2 linked regions of the Homo sapiens genome follow. The protein of the gene in region 1 purifies or fractionates together with the protein of each later gene. This does not show direct contact. Each region holds a gene or a part of one and is shown on either strand. Other genes may lie near its edges.

Evidence for each region. The genes of interacting proteins can lie anywhere in the genome.
Region 2: the proteins of EIF4G1 (region 1) and EIF3I purify together in Homo sapiens (affinity purification with mass spectrometry; 7 studies listed by BioGRID and IntAct, with this or other methods). This does not show direct contact.

What each region holds. Positions count from the first base shown.
Region 1 is NC_000003.12:184,324,580-184,331,605, forward strand, and holds part of EIF4G1 (eukaryotic translation initiation factor 4 gamma 1), read left to right. Parts: intron 1-298; coding exon 299-535; intron 536-689; coding exon 690-794; intron 795-900; coding exon 901-1,060; intron 1,061-1,116; exon of another isoform or gene 1,117-1,192; intron 1,193-1,271; coding exon 1,272-1,372; intron 1,373-1,947; coding exon 1,948-2,050; intron 2,051-2,301; coding exon 2,302-2,404; intron 2,405-2,636; coding exon 2,637-2,869; intron 2,870-3,006; coding exon 3,007-3,125; intron 3,126-3,250; coding exon 3,251-3,423; intron 3,424-4,051; coding exon 4,052-4,177; intron 4,178-4,329; coding exon 4,330-4,411; intron 4,412-6,686; coding exon 6,687-6,785; intron 6,786-6,892; coding exon 6,893-7,026.
Region 2 is NC_000001.11:32,225,386-32,232,109, reverse strand, and holds the end of EIF3I (eukaryotic translation initiation factor 3 subunit I), read right to left. Parts: intron 5,940-6,724; coding exon 5,790-5,939; intron 5,708-5,789; coding exon 5,580-5,707; intron 3,612-5,579; coding exon 3,501-3,611; intron 3,384-3,500; coding exon 3,294-3,383; intron 2,976-3,293; coding exon 2,902-2,975; intron 1,184-2,901; coding exon 1,091-1,183; intron 996-1,090; coding exon 914-995; 3' UTR 506-913; downstream 1-505. UniProt on the Homo sapiens protein: Component of the eukaryotic translation initiation factor 3 (eIF-3) complex, which is required for several steps in the initiation of protein synthesis.

The sequences.
Region 1 (7,026 bases):
CTCCCAAGTAGCTGGGATTACAGGCATGTGCCACCATACCTGGCTAATTTTTTTGTATTTTTAATAGAGACGGGGTTTTACCATGTTGGCCAAGCTGGTCTCAAACTCCTCCTGACCTCAAGTGATCCGCCTGCCTCAGCCTCCCAAATTGATGGGATTACAGGCATGAGCCACTATGCCCAGCCAGCCGGCCTCAGGACTGAGTGCTTATTGCTAGGTTTGGATATCCAGGTAGAAAAGGGTTTTAGCCGAGTGGCTGGTTATCTTTTTGACACAATCCCTGTCCTGTGAATGGCAGGCAGAGGAACGAGGACGCCTGAAGGAAGAGCTGGAAGAGGCTCGGGACATAGCCCGGCGGCGCTCTTTAGGGAATATCAAGTTTATTGGAGAGTTGTTCAAACTGAAGATGTTAACAGAGGCAATAATGCATGACTGTGTGGTCAAACTGCTTAAGAACCATGATGAAGAGTCCCTTGAGTGCCTTTGTCGTCTGCTCACCACCATTGGCAAAGACCTGGACTTTGAAAAAGCCAAGGTAGAGGTCCTTGCATCTGGAGGGGGATGGGCTGAAGCATATGTGGGGCTCACTGAGCCCACAATGATGGGGCGGAAGGCCTGAGGAGGGGTGGGGCCTGCAGTTATAGGTGGGACATGAGAAGTTCCTGGTCTGATGCCTTTCTCCTTCCTAGCCCCGAATGGATCAGTATTTCAACCAGATGGAAAAAATCATTAAAGAAAAGAAGACGTCATCCCGCATCCGCTTTATGCTGCAGGACGTGCTGGATCTGCGAGGGGTGTGTGTCCCCCTCCTCCCCACTGCCAGCCTGCTGCCTCCAGTTTCTGACACTGCCTTGTCTTGCCTTCCCTGACATCATCGTGACTGGCCCTCTGTCTCCACAGAGCAATTGGGTGCCACGCCGAGGGGATCAGGGTCCCAAGACCATTGACCAGATCCATAAGGAGGCTGAGATGGAAGAACATCGAGAGCACATCAAAGTGCAGCAGCTCATGGCCAAGGGCAGTGACAAGCGTCGGGGCGGTCCTCCAGGCCCTCCCATCAGTGAGTTCCAAGCTGGGATTGAGAAGGGAGCAGTGAAGGGACCGGGAGGTTATACTTTCCTCTGATGACTTCCTGTTAGTGCCACGTGTCTGGGCCACTGAGACACCATGATGGAACTGAGGATCTGAGGAAGGGAGGCTGGGGGTGGCCCAAGGGGAAGGGGCTGCTAGGATTTATTCATTATTCCAGTATGCCCCTCTTTTTGTGTCAGGCCGTGGACTTCCCCTTGTGGATGATGGTGGCTGGAACACAGTTCCCATCAGCAAAGGTAGCCGCCCCATTGACACCTCACGACTCACCAAGATCACCAAGGTAGGGGTGTGTGTGGGAGTGGGTGATTCAGCTCAGGTTTAGATCTTAGTCCCTTCACTTTTCTAAAGTTGAGAAGGTGACAGCTGAATGTTTCCTCTTAGACTAACTGGTTGGATTGCTGGAGACAGGACTGCCAGCTGTAGAGGGAGGGTGGTACTCCCATTAGTCTGGACCAGTGTTTGGCAAACACACACACACACACACACACACACACACACGTGCCAGATCCAGCCCATTCATACATCCCAGGACCCAGTAGTGGTTTTTACATTTTAAAGTTGCGAAAAATCAAAAAGTGAATGGTAATTTATGCTGTGGAAATTAAATAAAATGTAAATGTCAGTGTCCATGAAGTTTTATTGGAACACAGTCACAGCATGCCTTTATCATCTACAGCTGGTTTCATGCTACTGTGGCAGAATTGAGTAGTTGCAATAGAGACTGGCCCTTTATTAAAAAAGATTTTCTGACCCCTGGACTGGGCCATTCACTACCTGTTTGGTTGCATATGGTGGTGCTGGCCAAGGGACTCAGCCGGGTTGGACCTATGATTCTACTCCCCTTTTCTTCTTCAGCCTGGCTCCATCGATTCTAACAACCAGCTCTTTGCACCTGGAGGGCGACTGAGCTGGGGCAAGGGCAGCAGCGGAGGCTCAGGAGCCAAGCCCTCAGACGCAGGTATGGAGGCAGTGTCAGGAGCTGGGTGGTTACCCGTCAGAGCTCCCTTGAGGACAGAGCCTTTTCTGTTAGGGAGGCCTTCAGTACAAGGTGGTTAGGCAATGCGGGCAATAGAGGAGGTTTGTGTTGTGGTTCCAGGGATTGAACTGCTTTACTTTTGGGACTGGGACCAAGTGTCCTAAACTGGCAAGTAGGGGATAAAATGCAGGAAAGGAGAAAAAGATTTTAATACGGATTTTCTGCATCCCCAGCATCAGAAGCTGCTCGCCCAGCTACTAGTACTTTGAATCGCTTCTCAGCCCTTCAACAAGCGGTACCCACAGAAAGCACAGATAATAGACGTGTGGTGCAGAGGTGAGGTTTCCTGGACATCTTTGTTATTCACACTGGGGGTACCGTGATTGGGTTCTGGTTGTTGCCATAGGTTGGAAATTTCTTCATACCTGTCCTGGTTGGAGCCCTTGGGTTAGATTGGGGCATACTCATTATGCTAAGAACAAGGCCCAACAGTTGCTCAGCATGTTGTGTAATTACATGAGTGCCTGGGCAGTGCAAGTGAGTGAAAATTTGTCTGTCTGTCTTCCAGGAGTAGCTTGAGCCGAGAACGAGGCGAGAAAGCTGGAGACCGAGGAGACCGCCTAGAGCGGAGTGAACGGGGAGGGGACCGTGGGGACCGGCTTGATCGTGCGCGGACACCTGCTACCAAGCGGAGCTTCAGCAAGGAAGTGGAGGAGCGGAGTAGAGAACGGCCCTCCCAGCCTGAGGGGCTGCGCAAGGCAGCTAGCCTCACGGAGGATCGGGACCGTGGGCGGGATGCCGGTGAGAGTCTGGGAGAGGAATGGAGGGAAAGGCATTGGCTGCCTTGGGACTAGCTGGTCCCCAGCTTTTTGAGAGCTCCAAATCTTGTTTGCTGGGAAGACTGAAAAGTCCCTCTAATCTGTGTTCTCTTCCCACAGTGAAGCGAGAAGCTGCCCTACCCCCAGTGAGCCCCCTGAAGGCGGCTCTCTCTGAGGAGGAGTTAGAGAAGAAATCCAAGGCTATCATTGAGGAATATCTCCATCTCAATGACATGAAAGTAGGCAGTGGGAGCGGCGTGTGATTGAGGAGTGGGCAGGGAGGGATCATGCTGGCAGGCATAGGGGTCCGGGGTCTGGGTCAGACAGTGACTGGTCTCTTCCTGCTGTGCCCTGCACCCCTCAGGAGGCAGTCCAGTGCGTGCAGGAGCTGGCCTCACCCTCCTTGCTCTTCATCTTTGTACGGCATGGTGTCGAGTCTACGCTGGAGCGCAGTGCCATTGCTCGTGAGCATATGGGGCAGCTGCTGCACCAGCTGCTCTGTGCTGGGCATCTGTCTACTGCTCAGTACTACCAAGGGTATGACCAGCTTCTCTGGGCCTCCCACTTATACAGACCCACAATTTTCTATCTCCTTTTTGGGACCCTTGGAACCTTGCATAAGAGTGTAGGTTCCCTGGCCGGGTGTGGTGGCTTATGCCTGTAATCCCTGCACTTTGGGAGGCCAAGGTGGGTTGGATTCCTTAGAGGATCACGTGAGGTTGGGAGTTCTAGACCAGCCTGGCCAACATGGTGAAACCCTGTCTCTACTAATAATACAAAAATTAGCCAGGCGTGGTGGCACAGTAATCCCAGCTACTCGGAGGCTGAGGCAGGAGAACTGCTTGAACCCGGGAGGTGGAGGTTGCAGTGAGCCGAGATCGTGCCATTGCACTCCAGCCTGGGTGACAAAAGCAAAACTGTCTCAAAAAAAAAACCAAAAAACAGTATGGGTTCCTTGACCATCCTGGTCAGCATAACTTTAGGGGGTTAAGCGGGGTGAAAACCATCTAAGGACACAGAGGTGGCCTTAGCTTGAAATAATTGTCCCCATGTCTAGAAAATGTTCCTGGGGGTTCCATAGTTGATGCCCTAGCCATGCCACGTTGCCCCAGAAGGAGAGTGGGGACCTGGCCTAGAATGTCTTGACTTTGAATTCCCTTGGCAGGTTGTATGAAATCTTGGAATTGGCTGAGGACATGGAAATTGACATCCCCCACGTGTGGCTCTACCTAGCGGAACTGGTAACACCCATTCTGCAGGAAGGTGGGGTGCCCATGGGGGAGCTGTTCAGGTAAGTCCCCCTGGGTGGAATTCAGGGGAGGTAAAGACCAGAGGAAAGGTGGTAGGGAAATGGCTGGGTTGGATACCCTGGTTTGGAGGGAGATGGAGTAGTGGTGAGAGAACTGTGGAGGCTGTCAGCATTAGGTTTTTCTCTTCTTGTAGGGAGATTACAAAGCCTCTGAGACCGTTGGGCAAAGCTGCTTCCCTGTTGCTGGAGATCCTGGGCCTCCTGTGCAAAAGCATGGTGAGTGAGGGCCAGGAGTCCAGAGATGCCTCCCACGGTGTGGTTTTGGCTGTTTGCTGTGGCCCTGAAGCTTCATGGTCCATTGGTGGAGTGGAGTGATGGTGATGACAGGATTGTGTTGGTACCTGGGAGAGGAAATACTGAGGTGGGCCATCTCCCGCACACCAGTTCCTATCATGAGTTCTGGCCAAGACTGGAGGAGAATGGCAGTCTAAGACCCTAGGCCTGTGATTGATGCATTTATTTATTCATTCATTGAACTAGGGTTTTGTTGATGATCATTTATCATATACTAAGCACTAGGGACACAGCAATGAATAAAACACAAGAAACAAGTTGGTAGAGAAAAAGGAAGAAATGGGCCGGGCGCAGTGGCTCACGCCTGTAATCCCAGCACTTTGAGAGGCCGACGTGGGTGGATCACGAGGTCAGGAGTTCAAGACCAGCTTGGCCAATATGGTGAAACCCCATCTCTACTAAAAACACAAAAATTAGCCGTGTTGTGGCAGGTGCCTGTAATTCCACCTACTCAGGAGGCTGAGGCAGGAGAATCACTTGACCCGGGAGGCGGAGGTAGCAGTGAGCCGAGATTGTGCCACTGCACTCCAGCCTGGGAAACAGAGCAAGACTCTGTCTCCAAAAAAGAAAAAAGAAATGACAGCTTGATAAAAACAACAGTAAAGCGTGACATAAAACAGTTGAAATAGAGTGGAGTATCTTAAGTACTGTGGGGTTGCAAAGGAATATTTGACAATATTTGTGACAGGAGGCTTTCAGGGTGCTGAAGCGGCTTTGTGAAAGTTAATTGGTAACTAGCGAATATAAAGGTAAAGAGATGGGGAAAGGTAAGTTGAATGTGGTACTTAGTGGAAGTGAGAAGTTGGGGTGAGTGTGTGCAGTTTCAAGGGTTCAGCCATCTGGAACCTGGAGGAATCACACTTGGGATTTAAAGGAATTGTTATGTCAACATCATTTAATTCTTTTAAATAGACGTGTACCAGGACAAGTTGTTTTTTAACAACAAATAAGCATATTGAACTATTTGTGTATTTCATCAACTCCAAGGTGCCATAGATTATAAGACATTCTTTATGCGCTGTTAAGAAAGAAAAGACTGGGCCGGGCGTGGTAATCCCAGCACTTTGGGAGGCAGAGGTGGGTGGATCACGTGAGGTCAGGAGTTGGAAACCAGCCTGGCCAACATGATGAAACCCTGTATCTACTAAAAATACAAAAAAATTAGCTGGACATGGTGGTGCGCACCTGTAGTCCCAGCTACTTGGGAGGCTGAGGCAGGAGAATTGCTTGAACCCAGGAGGGGGAGGTTGCAGTAAGCCAAGATTGTGCCACTGCACTCCAGCCTGGGCGACAGAGCAAGACTCTGTCTCAAAATAAAAAAAGATATATATCGGCTGTAAGACAACTTTTAGTTAAAATGTGAAAAAATGGGCATGTTTTAAAATCTGTGAACTGCAATAATCTTGCTAAGAGCCAGTGCCATTAGTCTGTTATAAAGAAAAGAGTGATGTCTTCATAGTCTATTGCCCCTTACAGAAAATGCACTCAGACTGCTGGTTTTATGAGGATTTTTTATTTGTGTTAGGGATGGGGTATATTTGTGTCTTAAGATTTTCTGGGTTTAGGAAACAAGCATACTTGTTAGAAGTTGTCCCTTCCTAGAGGCCCTTACATCATTTTTCCTACCCTAGTGTCATAGCACTTTGGTGGACAAGTTCTCTTTTATTTTATTTTATTATTATTATTTTTTTGAGACAGAGTCTCGCTGTGTCGCCCAGGCTGGAGTGCAGTGGCGTGATCTCAGCTCATTGCAACCCTCGCCTTGGGTTCAAGCGATTCTCCTGCCTCAGCCTCCCGAGTAGCTGGGATTACAGGCACCCACCACCACGCCTGGCTAATTTTTGTATTTTCTGTAGAGACGGGGTTTCACCATGTTGGTCAGGCTGGTCTCCGACTCCTGACCTCAGGTGATCCGCCCACCTCGACCTTTCAGAGTGCTAGGATTACAGGCGTGAGCCACCGCCCGCTCCTGGGACGAGTTCTTATTTATTTGGGTGGTTATTTGACTGACATCTGTGCCCTGCACCAGACCGTAGGAATGGAAGGGCTTTGCCTATTAGTATTTCTATAGCATCCTTAATGCCTAGCAAGTACCTAGTAGGCTTTCAGTAAATATTTGTTGGATTAATGTGGTAGAGCTGTTGGGTCCTTGGAGAGAGAGAGCTTTGGTAAGCTGGGTTGGTCTTGTGTTTTCCAGGGTCCTAAAAAGGTGGGGACGCTGTGGCGAGAAGCCGGGCTTAGCTGGAAGGAATTTCTACCTGAAGGCCAGGACATTGGTGCATTCGTCGCTGAACAGGTTTGGGGATGGAGTTGGGTTAATTCTAGCATTTGAGGCTGGCCAGTCTTCTTTCTTGTCTCCTGTTGGCAACCTTACCTCTTAACTGCGGGCCTTTTCCATTGCAGAAGGTGGAGTATACCCTGGGAGAGGAGTCGGAAGCCCCTGGCCAGAGGGCACTCCCCTCCGAGGAGCTGAACAGGCAGCTGGAGAAGCTGCTGAAGGAGGGCAGCAGTAACCAGCGGGTGTTCGACTGGATAGA
Region 2 (6,724 bases), on another chromosome or scaffold:
CAGAACCCACTCTACCTCCTCAATCCCTTGGCCATCTGTGGAGCCCCAGAGCCTGCGGCTGTGGCAAGGTGAGCTCCACACCTTCTCCCCTGGGTATTACCCCTCTGCTCAGCGTCCTGACCTGTCTTCCTCCTCCTCAGGCCTGTTTCTGCGCTGGACCTGCTCACCTGAGCCTGCAGAAGCTGCATGGGGGAAGAGTGTGGCAAATAGTGACAGGAAGGGAGAAGACAGAAGCCTCTCAGCCAACTGCTTCAGCCGAGCCCCTATTCTAAGCACTGGCTCCTTGGATAGCAGCTGAGATGTTCCTGAAACCTCTGCAGGCCCCTTAGGACCTTTACACCTTGGATGAGGGTGCCTGCAACCCAGGTTAGCCAAAAGTACTGAGGGTCTTAAGTTTGAAGTGTCCAAAGTATAGGGAGGTCTCAATAATAAAAGTCTCCATGATCAGCATCAGCTTGCTGGGGTGTCAGTGAAAAGGAAAAATGATGAAACAGACACCACAAAATATCTGACCAGAAGCCATTTATTACCAAACCAATTTATTTCTTAGAGTTCAAAACCTTCTGTGAGAATCTTCTCTGGCCTGGTTGGAGATCCACCTTCTTCTTTTTTTTTTTTGAGACGGAGTTTTGCTCTTGTGGCTCAGGATGGAGTGCAATGACGTGATCTCAGCTCACTGCAACCTCTGCCTCCTGGGTTCAAGTGATTCTCCTGCCTCAGCCTCCTGAGTAGCTGGGACTATAGGCGTGTGCCACCATGCCTGGCTAATTTTTGTATTTTTAGTAGAGACGAGGTTTCTCCATGTTGGTCAGGCTGGTCTTAAACTCCTGACCTCAGGTGATCCGCCTGCCTTAAAAAAAAAGTGGTGGGATTACAGGCATGAGCCACCACGCCCGGCAGGAGATCCAGCTTCTTAAGCCTCAAACTCAAATTCGAAGTACTGTGGGTCGAAGTAATGGATACGGACGTAACCATCTTCGCCGCCGCTGCTGTAGCTGGAAAAAGATAGCCAGGCACCAGTCAGGTGCTTACTCTGGGAAAGGCAGAGACCCAACCCAGGCTTAGGTCAGCTGCTTCACTGGTACCCTACCTCTTGCCATCAGGATGGAAGGCAACACTGTTGATAGGTCCAAAGTGACCCTTGACTCTTCCAAACTCTTCTTCAAAGGCCAAATGGAAGAACCTGGAGGAAAAGGGACACAATTAATTCACTTTCTATCTTCTTCCAAAACACTTTGGAGGTGGCACTCCCCAAATGCAAATTGTTATTATTATTTATTTATTTTGAGATGGAGTCTTACTCTGTCACCCAGGGTGGAGTACAGTGGCGCAATCTCGGTTCACTGGAACCTCCCCCTCCTGGGTTCAAGCAATTCTCCTGCCTCAGCCTCCTGAGTGGTTGGGATTACAGATGCCTGGCTAATTTTTGTATTTTTAGTAGAGATGGGGTTTCACCATGTTGGCCAGGCTGGTTACGAACTCCTGGCCTCAAGCCGCCTTCCTTAGCCTCCCAATGTGCTGGGATTACAGGCATGAGCCACCACACCTGGCCTCAAATGCAAATTGTATCACAAAAAATAAAGCAGAAGCCGAGGCGCAGTGGCTCACGCCTGTAATCCCAACACTTTGGGAGGCCGAGGCGGGTGGATCACTTGAGGCCAGGAGTTTGAGACCAGCCTGGCCAACATCTCTACTAAAAATACAAAAAGCAGCCAGGGACGGTGGCCATGTACCTGTAATCCCAGCTACTCAGAAGCTGAGGTAGAAGGATCGCTTGAGCCCAGGAGGTTGCGGTGAGCAGAGATGGTGCCACTGCACTCCAGCCTGGGCAACAGAGTGAGACCCTGTCTCAAAAAATAATAATAATAAAGCAGAAAAATTGAGATAAGAAGTGAATGTGAACAAAATAAGATGGAAATTGGTGGCTGCGTGCCATGGTTCACGCCTGTAATCCCAGCACTTTGGGAGGCTGAGGACAGAGGATTGCTTGAGCCCAGGAGTTCGAGGCCAGCCTGGGCAACATAGTGAGACCCTGTCTCTTACTTTTTTAACTTTTTTATTATATGGGGAAGACTGGACCCAGATGTCTGCCTGAATACATAACTAATACTTATAGAGTGCCTACTATGTGCTGGGCAGTGCTTAAAGAGCTTAATAAATATTAACTGAATAATTTAATCTGCATAATTTTATGTTAAGTATATTGTCATTGTCTCATTATACAGTAGAGGAAATTTAGACATAGAGAAATATAATGAAGGCTGGGCACAGTGGCTCATGCCTGTAATCCCAGCACTCTGGAAGGCCAAGGTGGGCGGATTACTTAAGGCCAGGAGTTCAAGACCAGCCTGGCAAACATGGTGAAATCCTGTCTCTACTAAAAATACAAAAATTAGCCAGGCGTGGTCATGGGTGCCTGTAATCCCAGCCACCCAGGAGGCAGAGGCAGGATAATTGCTTGAACCCGGGAAGCAGAGGTTGCAGTGAGCAGAGATCGCGCCATTGCACTCCAGCCTGGGTGACAGAGCAAGACTCCGTGTCAAAAAAAAAAAAAAAAAAAAAGGCTGGGCACGGTGGCTCATGCCTGTAATCCCAGCACTTTGGGAGGCTGAGGCGGGCGTATCACGAGGTCAGGAGATCGAGACCATCCTTGCTAACACGGTGAAACCCCGTCTCTACTAAAAATACAAAAAGAAAATTAGCCAGGCATGGTGGTGGGCGCCTGGGCCGCTGAGGCAGGAGAATGGCGTCAACCCGGGAGGCAGAGCTTGCAGTGAGCAGAGATCACGCCACTGCGCTCCAGCCTAGGCGACAGAGCGAGACTCCATCTCAAAAACAAAAACAAACAAAAAAGGTACACCACATGAGATTTTAATTTGGAAGAGCTCTCTTCTTCTTTACCTGGCCTCAAACTTGCCAATCCTGGTGGAGGTTGTGGTTACATCCATGGCTTCCTGACCACCGCCCAGGACCACCTGAATGGAAGAAGAAACTCTAGATGGGACCAATGGACACCAAGTCCATTTTGTGTTTTTCTGCTGCCATATACATTTTTAACATCTCACACGGCTCAATGGGAGGATACCAAAGGTAGGGGATGATCAGACACTTCTGCCACCTCCTGCTGGCTGCCCTGGGGCTATTCAATCCTTCCAGCTTTGTCACTCCTCTGGGCATCTCCTCTCTGCCTGACATCATTTCCCCCACAATGTTGTAGCCCAACTTCTGGACAAGCATCTAGAACTTGGAAGCTTCCTGAGGCTTCAGCAGGAAGGCAGGTGGGGTTCTCTTACATGGTCATAGTTGGGGGAGAGGGCAGCTGAGTTGACAGGACGTTCTGTCCGGAAAGTCTTCTGATGTTCAAGAGTTGTGGAGTCAAAAAGCTGGAGAGAGAAGGCAGGGGGGAAATCTGTAAAGAGCTTTCCTGGGGGAAGTCGGGCAGGGTGAGCTGTGCAGCCGGAGGGAGGGAGCAGCCCTGCCAGACCGCTGCCCAGGCTCACCTTGGCTGTGTTGTCCTTGGACGCGGTCACAAACATGGTCATGTCCCTGGATAACTGGATGTCGTTGATCTGCCGGGAGTGCTCCTTAACATTCACCAACACCTCTCCAGACTAGGGAAGGAAGAAGAGTGACACTGAATGGGCCCAATCCCTACTAATCTCAGCTCCCCAGAAACCCAAGCACCCAAATGAAAGCTGAGACAGCATGGACTTTGTGTTTTCCTCACCCCCTCTATCCTATCAGTCACCCCTAAATATCCCTTGACTCTGTCCAGTAATGTACATCCTATGCCTATTGGCTAGTTCAGGTTCACTCTCCAAACATAAACTGCAAAAGCTGTTGGAAGGAAAATCTGGCCATTGATAACCCTTTAAAGATTCCCTACTGCCTGGAGGAAAGTCAAAACTCTTTACCTCCTCACACTGAAGGACGTTTAAAATCTATTCCCCGTCCTCTGTCCCCAAGACCACACCCCAAGGGTTTCTGAAGACTCCATACTTTCTTAACTCTGTGCCTTTGCCTTTGCTGTTCCTTTTGCCTGTGGGATGTTCTTTCCTTCCTGCTTGAAGCTCCATTTATTCTCCAGGGTTTAATGTACACGCCACCTCCCTGGGAGAGTGCACCTTCCACACTTGGCTGAGACCTCTATGGTGGCACAATTCACAATCTGACTCAGGTGCTAGCTGTTTGCAAGTCTGTCTCCCCATGGGGGAAGGGACTGCATCTGATTTACTTCTTTGTTCTAGGAGTTCAGCATTATACTCAGCATTATACAGGGCATTATACTCAGTGGTGGCAAGGAAATGCTCATTTGTGATCCTTAATTATTTTTTTGAGACAGGGTCTTGTTCTATCACCCAGGCTGGAGTACAGTGGCACAATCATGGCTCACTGCAGCCTCAATCTCCCAGACTCAAGCAATCTTTCAGCCTCAACATCCTGAGTACCTGGGACCAAAGGCACACTCCACCACACCCAGCTAATTTTTAATTTTTTTTTGTAGAGACAGGGTCTTCCTATATTGCCCAGGCTGATCTCAATCTCCGGGTCTCAAGCAATCCTGCCACAGCCTCCCAAAGTGTTGGGATTACAAGTGTGAGTCACCACACCCGGCCTGTGATCCTTATTAACATGTCCTGAGTACTTTGTGACAAGTTTTTCAAACATGTGATATCATTTGATCCTTGAAACATTTTACAGATAAACAGGGTCAGAGAAGTCATGTAAATTGCCCAAGATCACACAGCTAGAAAGTGGTGAAATCTACATTTGAATCTCACCTCTGCTCTTTTTAAAATTTTTTATTAACTTTTTTTTTTTTTTTTTTTTTTTTAGAGACAGGGTCTCACTGTCACCCAGGCTGGAGTGCAGTGGTGCAATCATAGCTCACTGCAGCCCCAACCCCTGGGCTCAAGAGATCCTCCTGCCTTGGCCCCCAAAGGCACTGGGATTACAGATGTGAGCCACAGCATACAGCCCTGCCCTTGTTCTGAACTAGTGTGCTATCACCAGGACCCGAGGCAGGTGGATCATCTGAGGTCAGGAGGTCAGGATTCAAGACCAGCCTGGCCAACATGGAGAAACCCCATCTCTACTAAAAATACAAAAATTACCCAGGCATGGTGGCAGGTGCCTATAGTCCCAGCTACTCAAGAGGCTGAGGCAGGAGAATGGCTTGAACCCAGGAGGTGGAGGTTGCAGTGAGCCGAGATCGTACCACTGCACTCCAGCCTGGGTGACAGGGTGATACTCTGTCTCAAAAAAAAAAAAAAAAAAAAAAAAAAGCCACGAGCGGTGGACTGCCTGAGGTCAGGAGTTCGTGACCAGACTGACCAACATGGTGAAACCCTGTCTCTACTAAAAATACAAAAAAAATTAGCCAGGTGCGGTGGCATGCACCTGTAATCCCAGCTACTCGGGAGGCTAAGGCAGGGGAATTGCTTGAACCAGGGAGGTGGAGGTCGCAGTGAGCCGAGATGGCGCCACTGCACTCCAGCCTGGGCAACAGAGAGAGACTCTATCTTAAAAAAAAAAAAAAAAATTATTCTGGTAGGCTCAGGCCCCATGTGGCCTCTTACCTTGGCACTATACTGGTTGAGCTCTCCACTCTCATGGCCAGCGATGATGCACTCCCCCAGGGGTCCCCAAACAGCACTGGTGATTTTAGAGTCATTGCAAGGGATCTTCATGTAGGGCTCATTGTTGTCTGTGTGGGGCAGTAGATGTTAGGCCCTGGGCTCTAGAACTGTACCCTTTACCTCAACCCCAGCCCTATTCCCAGCCCTCACCAATCTGGCTCGGATCCCGCAGGTCAAAAAAGCTCACAAAGCACTGGTAGCCCATCTGCTTGTCCGTGGAGAACATGATGATGTTGCCCCCAAAGTCAAAACCGCAGGTCCGGACAGCCGAATTGGTCTTGAGAAGGGCCAGCTGCTTTCCTGGAGTCAGGCAAAGTCTGGGCTACACCATCCATTGCAATTGCAGGGAGGACATTCTAGAGAATGCTACCATCACATCTCACTGTTTGTCTTGCTCCAGTGACCCAAACTTAAAAAGTATTTTAACTTTTCTTTTTTTTTTTCTTTTTTGAGACAGTTTCACTCTGTTGCCCAGGCTGGAGTGCAGTGGTGCAATCTCGGCTCTCACTGCAAGCTCCGCCTCCCGGGTTCACGCCATTCTCCTGCCTCAGCCTCCCAAGTAGCTGGGACTACAGGCGCCTGCCACCATGCCCCGCTAATTTTTTGTATTTTTAGTAGAGACGGGATTTCACCGTGTTAGCCAGGATGGTCTTGATCTCCTGACCCGTGATCCGCCCGCCTCAGCCTCCCAAAGTGCTGGGATTACAGGTGTGAGCCACCGCGCCCGGCCTTTTTTTTTTTGAGATGGAGTTTCGCTCTTGTCCTGCAGGCTGCTGTGCGATGGTGTGATCTCGGCTCACTGCAACCTTTCAAGCGATTCTTCTGCCTCAGCCTCCTGAGTCGATGGGATTACAGGTGCCCACCACCATGCCTGGCTCATTTTTGTATTTTTAATAGACGGGGTTTCACCATGTTGGCCAGGCTGGTCTTGCACTCCTGACCTCAGGTGATCCACCTGCCTCAACCTCCCAAAGTGCTGGGATTACAGGCGTGAGCCACCACACCTGGCCAAGTATTTTAACTTCTTACCTAGACTCTTTCCTCAGACATCCTGCTAATGTGGCACTACTCATACGTAGACTGCA